Linked DNA regions of Homo sapiens. The protein of the gene in region 1 interacts with the protein of each later gene in a biochemical or structural test. Each region holds a gene or a part of one and is shown in the gene's direction. Other genes may lie near its edges.

What was found.
Region 2: the proteins of USP8 (region 1) and NBR1 form a complex in vitro, tested with the Homo sapiens proteins (one study listed by BioGRID).

The regions. Positions count from the first base shown.
Region 1 is NC_000015.10:50,511,244-50,515,084, forward strand, and holds the end of USP8 (ubiquitin carboxyl-terminal hydrolase 8), read left to right. Parts: 3' UTR 1-3,178; downstream 3,179-3,841. UniProt on the Homo sapiens protein: Hydrolase that can remove conjugated ubiquitin from proteins and therefore plays an important regulatory role at the level of protein turnover by preventing degradation. Converts both 'Lys-48' an 'Lys-63'-linked ubiquitin chains.
Region 2 is NC_000017.11:43,194,917-43,198,740, forward strand, and holds part of NBR1 (next to BRCA1 gene 1 protein), read left to right. Parts: intron 1-47; coding exon 48-123; intron 124-1,564; coding exon 1,565-1,675; intron 1,676-2,025; coding exon 2,026-2,190; intron 2,191-3,824. UniProt on the Homo sapiens protein: Ubiquitin-binding autophagy adapter that participates in different processes including host defense or intracellular homeostasis.

The DNA.
Region 1 (3,841 bases):
GGGATAGAATAAAAAATGAGAGGCAGTAACAAGTTCGGTTGAGGATGTGGGGAAACTGGAACCTTAGTTCCAGTTGCTGGTGGGAACGTAAAATGCTGCTGCCACTTTGGAAAACAATTTGGCAGTTCCTCAAAAAATTAACCAGAGTTACCATATGACCCAGAAATTTCACACTTAGGTATATACCCAACAGAAATGAAAACATGTTTACAGAAAATCCTGTACATAAATGTTCATAGCAGCATTACTGATGACAGCCAAAAGTGGAAACAAGCCAAATGTCCATCACTGGATGGATTAAGGAAATGTGGTATATCCTATACAATGGAATATTATTTGGCAATAAAAAGGAATGAAGTACAGATACATGCTATGACATGAATGAAACTTGAAAACATTATGCTGAATAAAAGAAAATAAAAACAGAAGGTCATATATTCTATGATTCTGTTTATTAAAATACCCAGAATAGGCCAGGCACTGTGGCTCACGCCTGTAATCCCAGCACCTGGGGGAGCCGAGGCAGGTGGATCACTTGACGTCTGGAGTTTGAGACCAGCCTGGGCAATATAGCAAAACCCCATCTCAACCAAAATACACAAAAATTATTGGGGCATGGTGGTGCACACCTGTGGTCCCAGCTACTCGAGGGAGGGAGGAGGGAAGATCACTTGAGCCAGGGAGGTTGAGGCTGCAGTGAGCTGAGATTGCACCATTGCACTCCAGCCTGAGCAAGAGTGAGATATTGTCTCAAAAAATAAAATAAATAAAATTTTAAAAATACGCAGAATAGGCACATCTATAGAAATATATAAAGTAGAGGCCAGGAGAAGTGGTTCATGCCTGTAATCCGAGCACTTTGGGAGGCCAAGGTGGGTGCGCCACTTGAGGTCAGGAGTTCAAGACCAGCCTGGTCAACATGGTGAAACCCCACCTCTACTAAAAATACAAAAATACACCTGTAGTCCCAGCTACTCGGGAGGCTGAGTTACGAGAATCCCTTGAACCTGGGAGGCGGAAGTTGCAGTGAGCTGAAATCATGCCACTGCACTCCAGCCTGGGCAACAGAGCAAGACTCTGTTAAAAAAAAAAAAAATAGCGAGAGATCGAGAGAGAGTGCACGTGAGAAGACTAGTAGTTGCTATGGACTGGGGGAGAAGGAACGGGTTACAGGGTTTCTTTTGGGGATAACGAAAATGTTCTAAAACTGGACTGTGGTGATAACTGCACAACTCTGTGAATGTACTAAAAACTACTGAACTGGCCAGGCACAGTGGCTCACACCTGTAATCCCAGCACTTTGGGAGGCCCTGAGATGGGCAGATCACTTGAGGTCAGGAGTTCCAGACCAGTCTGGCCAACATGGTGAAACCACATCTCTACTAAAAATATTTTTAAAAATTAGCCAGGCATGGTGGTGCACCTGTAATCCCAGCTACTTGGGAGGCTGGGGCATGAGAATCATTTGAAACCAGGGGGTGGAGGTTGCAGTGAGCCGAGATCACACCACCGCACTCCAGCCTGGGCGACAGAGCCAGACTCTGTCTCAAAAACAAACAAAACAAAAACAACAAAAAACACAACTGAACACATTTAAGGTGAATTCTGTGGTATGTGAACTATCTCTAAGAACTTCTTTTTATTTAAGTTGGGAAACAAAAAGATCATGTACAACAAACCAAAAACAAAAAAGTTATTTCTAACCCATGTAACATATAACAAGGATCTAGAACATGTAAATGACTCTTTCCAATCAATAAGAAGAAAAATAACCCAGTTTGTAAAAAATGTGCAAAAGACAAATATTTCATACAATAGGAAAAACTAAAATGAGATAATTTTGTATCCATTAGATGGCAAAAATTAAGAAGTCTGATGATCCTGGTAGGGGTATGTATTGGTATAATCACTTGTAGAAAGTTAAATATGCACATACTTTATGATCTAAGTGACCTCACTCCTAAGTATATACATGAGAGAAACTCTTATGCACATATATATGCAGGAATGTCTGCATAATGTTGTTCATGCCAGCAAAAATTTGGAAACAATGAAATATCAATAGGAAAATGGATAATTTATGATATATTCACACAATATACATCATAGGCTAGTGAAATTATAACCACATGCAACAATATGGATATATCTTTAAAATATTTAATGAAAAAGTATGCTTGGCGCGGTAGCTCACACCTGTAATCCCAGCACTTTGGGAGGATGAGGGAGGTGGATCACCTGAGGTCATGAGTTCGAGACAAGAGCGAAACTGTCTAAAAAAAAAAAAAAAAAAAAGAGTGAAGAATCAAGCCACAGAAGGTAATTTAAAAATGTACACTCAAGATTTAAAAAGAACTACAATTCCATAAGAAAAAGGCAGGCCACAGAATAGGAAAAAGAATAAAAGACTTGTTTAGGCATTTCACAAAAGAAAGTATACAAATTTAAGTAGTTATTTAAACCACAATGCCATTCTACTATATGGGCAACCAGAAGGGCCAAAACAAAACGAACAAAAGACTACCAAGTGTTAACAAGGATTTAAGGCAACTGAAACTTCCAGTCATTGCTGGTGGGGGTATGAATTGGTACAGTCGCTTTGGAAAGCTACTGAGCAGTATGTACTAAAGCCAGACATATGCGTATTTCTGAACCAGGAGTTTCACTCCTAGGTATGTACTCAAAAGAACTGTGTACACTATGTTCACCAAAAAACAAGAATGTTTATAGCAACCCTCTTTGCATTAGTCAAAAGCTAGTAATTACCCAAAAGTTCCTGAATGGTAGAATGAATTACTAAATTGTAGTATTTTCATACAATGGAATACTATACAGCAATGAGAATGAATAAATTACAATATAAACAACAATATGGATGAACATTACATAATTTTGAATGAAAGGAGCCAGACACAAAAAAAGGATATACTGTACAATTCCATTTATACGAAGCATAAAATCAGGCAAAAATCTATAAATCTGTCCTGCCAGAAGTCAGTGGTTTTCCAGACTCGAAGGCAGGTACAAGCACAGTTAGGGTGCTGGTAACATTCTGTTTAAACTCTGTTCTGCTGGTTACATGGGTATGTTCACTTGAAAATCCATCAAGTTTTATCCTCATGGTTTGTGTACTTTTCTGTATATATGTTTCACTTCAATAAAGTTTATTTTTGGTCAAGGGCAGTGTCTCATACCTGTATTCCCAGCACTTTGAGAGGCCGAGGCAGCCCGACTGCTTAAGCCCAGGAGTTCCACAGCAGCCTGAGGAACATGGAGAAACCCTTCTCTACAATTTTTTTTCTTTTTGAGATGGGAGTCTCGCTGTGTCACCAGGCTGGAGTGCAGCGGCGCGATCTCGGCTCACTGCAACCTCCGCCTCCTGGGTTCAAGTGATTCTTCCTCAGCCTCCCAAGTAGCTGGGATTACAGGCGCATGCCACCACACCCAGCTAATTTTTTTTATTTTTAGTAGAGATGGGGTTTCACCATGTTGGCCAGGATGGTCTCCATCTCCTGACTTCGTGATCTGCTTGCCTCAGCCTCCCAAAGTGCTGGGATTACAGGCGTGAGCCACCACCCCTGGCCTACAAATTTTTTTAAAAAATTAGCTGGGCATGATGGCACTTGCCTGTCGTCCCAACCACTCAGGAGGCTGAGATGCGAGAATCACTTGAGCTCAGGTGGTGGAGGTTGCAATGAGCCGAGATTGTGCACCACTACTTCAGCCTGGGAAAAAGAGAGAGACACAGTCTAAAAAAAAAAAAAAAAAAAAGTATTTTTTAAAAAACATGAAGAAATAGAAATCTTGACTAGACCTATAATAGCTAAAACAGCCTGAGTCA
Region 2 (3,824 bases), on another chromosome or scaffold:
GGCTCCAGCATGCACTCCAAACAGCCTAACATTGTCTTTTTTTATAGGACCTGCTGTCCTTTGAGCTGTTGGATATAAACATTGTTCAAGAGTTGGAGAGAGTGCCCCACAACACCCCTGTGGGTAAGAATGTCACTCATTTCATCTTGTTCGTCTTACTAATAGGCACAAAAGTACCACAGCCTAGACACTGGTAGTGTTTTATTCTGAGGAAATGGCAAGGATTTCTCCCACAGTAGGATAGTAAAGCAGCAATCATGGATCCGTTTTTCTTCTTTCCTGTCCTTTGTCAAAAGTAACAACATGCTGGGCATGGTGGCTCGTGTCTATAATCCCAGCTCTTTGGGAGGCCAAGGCAGGAGGATCACTTGAGGCCAGGGTTTGAGACCAGCCTGGGCAACATGGTGAAACCCCCATCTCTACAAAAATTACTTTTAAAAATTAGCTGGGTGTGGCCAGGCACGGTGGCTCACGCCTGTAATCCCAGCACTTTGGGAGGCTGAGACGGGCAGATCACCTGAGGTCGGGAGTTTGAGACCAGCCTGACCAACATGGAGAAACCCCTTCTCTACTAAAAATACAAAATTAGCTGGGCATGGTGGCACATGCCTGTAATCCGAACTACTCGGGAGGCTGAGGCGGGAGAATTGCTTGAACCCAGAAGGCGGAGGTTGTGGTGAGCTGAGATTGCACCATTGCACTCCAGCCAGGACAACAAGAGCAAAACTCCGTCTCAAAAAAAAAAAAAAAAAAAATTAGCTTGGCATGGTGGCCTGCACCTGTGGTCCCAGCTACCAGGGAGACTGAAGTGGGAGAATCTCCTGATCCCAGGAGGCAGAGGCTGCAGTGAGCCAGGATTGTGCCATTGCTCTCCAGCCTGGATGACAGAGTGAAACCCAATCTCAAAAAACAAACAAAAAAAAGAGGCTGGGCACGGTAGCTCACGCCTGTAATCCCAGCACTTTGGGAGGCCAAGGCTGGTGGATCACAAGGTCAGAAGTTCAAGACCAGCCTGGCCAAGATGGTGAAACCCCATCTCTACTAAAAATACAAAAATTAGCCAGGCATGGTGGCAGGTGCCTGTAATCCCAGCTACTCGGGAGGCTGAGGCAGAGAGTTGCTTGAACCTGGGAGGCGGAGGTTGCAGTGAGCCGAGATTGTGCCACTGCATTCTAGCCTGGGTGACAGAGCAAGACTGCATCTCAAAAAAAAAAAAAAAAGCAATAAAACAAGTTCGTGCAAGGCTTTTCCACTATAAAGGAATCCTCTTCTCTTTTTTCCCTCTAGATACTTGTGTCCTTTTGTTCCTTTATGTTCATGGTTTTGTGTCTTGGCCACAGCTTTCCAGGCTAAATAACTGTGATTCTTCCTGCATTGATTGATCTGAGATATTTTGCTTACTTATTGGTCTGGAGAAATTTTTTGTAACAGACCTCAAAGCATATCTTGGTTTATTTTAGCCCTGCGGGAGGCAAGAAGCCTACAAACTGCTACTTCTGGACACTGACTGTTGATGATATGATGCTTTCTCTTGATTGATGGTTCTCCTGTCTTCATTCTCCAGATGTGACTCCCTGCATGTCTCCTCTGCCACATGACAGTCCTTTAATAGAGAAGCCAGGCTTGGGGCAGATAGAGGAAGAGAATGAAGGGGCAGGATTTAAAGCACTTCCTGGTAAGGGATTAAACATTTGTAAAGTATTTGCATCCTCCCTTTCCATATCATACCCTATTTTACAGCTATCCCCTACTGACCCTACCTTAGCATGTAAATGGGCTTGCTTTCTGTAGCATCTCATGTTTTGAAGTCTCCTCACCTTCACATGGCACAGATAGCAGCTATTCCTTGGTTTAGTTTTAGCATGGGTAATGACTGGTGAATGTTCTTCAGCACTTTAAACACCAAGTGCAGACAAAGTTTAGATAGCAGCTATTCCTTGGTTTAGTTTTAGCATGGGTAATGACTGGTGAATGTTCCTCAGCACTTTAAACACCCAGTGCAGATAAGGTTCGTGTGTCTTTCAGATTCTATGGTGTCAGTAAAGAGGAAGGCTGAGAACATTGCTTCTGTGGAGGAAGCAGAAGAAGACCTGAGTGGGACCCAGTTTGTGTGTGAGACAGTAATCCGATCCCTTACCTTGGATGCTGCCCCAGACCACAACCCTCCTTGCAGACAGAAGTCCTTGCAGAGTGAGTGTCCTTGCATTTCCCCTACCTAGCAGGGTGGCACCTGAATTGTGACTGCCAGACTTGACTAGTTAGATGTGCTCTTCTTCACTGAGACTGAAGGGAGAGTGATCTTAGTTAGAAGTTCTGATCTTGGCGGGGCGTGGTGGCTCAAGCCTGTAATCCCAGCACTTTGGGAGGCCAAGGCAGGCGGATCACAAGGTCAGGAGATCAAGTCCATCCTGGCTAACATGGTGAAATCCCATCTCTACTAAAAATACAAAAAATTAGCCTGGCGACGTGGCGGGTGCCTGTAGTCCCAGCTACTCGGGAGGCTGAGGCAGGAGAATGGCATGAACCCGGGAGGCGGAGCTTGCAGTGAGCCAAGATTGCGCCACTGCACTCTAGCCTGGGCGACAAAGCGAGACTCCATCTCAAAAAAAAAAAAAGAAATTCTGATCTTGTTTGTGTCTTTAGACTCTACGTATGCTACCTGACTGTTCTAATTAGAGCATCAGGAGTAAAGAAGCCATCATACTCATTTCTCCATCTTCTCAGGGGCAGAATTACAGCTGCATTCCACAGTGGAATAGCAGCCAGTTGTGCTGCCTGGATTCTGCAGTAAGGAATCTTCCTGTAATTTGACAGAGCTCCTTAGCAGAGACCCCTATGGGTAGCTGAGTTGTCTGCTTTCTCCAAGGGCAGCAGTCCCAGAAACAGTGGATAGAAGCAGGAGTACCAACAAAGTTTCTCAAGGTTAAATTCTGCTGTAATAAATACCTTTATAGGCCGGGCACAGTGGCTCACCCTTGTAATCCTAGCACTTTATGAGGCTGAGGCGGGTGGATCACCTGAGGTTGGGAGTTCGAGACCAGCCTGACCGACATGGAGAAACCCCATCTCTACTAAAAATACTAAAAATTAGCCAGGTGTGGTGGCTACATGCCAAGGATTACATGCCTGTAATCCCAGGTACTTGGGAGGCTGAGGCAGGAGAATCACTTTAACCCGGGAGGCGAAGGCTGTGGTTAGCCGAGATGGCGCCATTGCACTCCAGCCTGGCAACAAGAGTGAAACTCCGTCTCAAAAAAAAAAAAAGGAATAAATACCTTTATAACAGAAACTTCTAGGTATCAGATAGATAGAACCAATAGCATATATTTTAAGAAGTATCCAAAAATTCAAATATACTATGTCAAAATAATATTGGAGAATCTCTTTATTATAATCAAATTTGACCTATATCTTTAAATATTATTTATCTTACTTTTGTTTAAAGTATACATGTAAGGCCAGGCGCAGTGGCTCACGCCTGTAATCCCAGCACTTTGTGAGGCCGAGGCGGACAGATCACAAGCTCAGGAGTTTGAGACCAGCCTGACCAACATGGAGAAACCCCATTTCTACTAAAAATACAAAAATTAGCTGGGCGTGGTAGCGTGTGCCTGTGATCCAGCTACTCAAGACGCTGAGGCAGGAGAACTGCTTGAACCCGGGAAGCCAAGGTTGCAGTGAGCTGAGATCGCACCACTGCACTCCAGCCTGGGTGACAGAGCGAGACTCCGTCTAAAAAAAAAAAATAATAAAGTGTACATGTGGCCAGGTGCGGTGGCTCATACCTGTAATCCCAGCACGTTGGGAGGCCGAGGTGGGCGGAT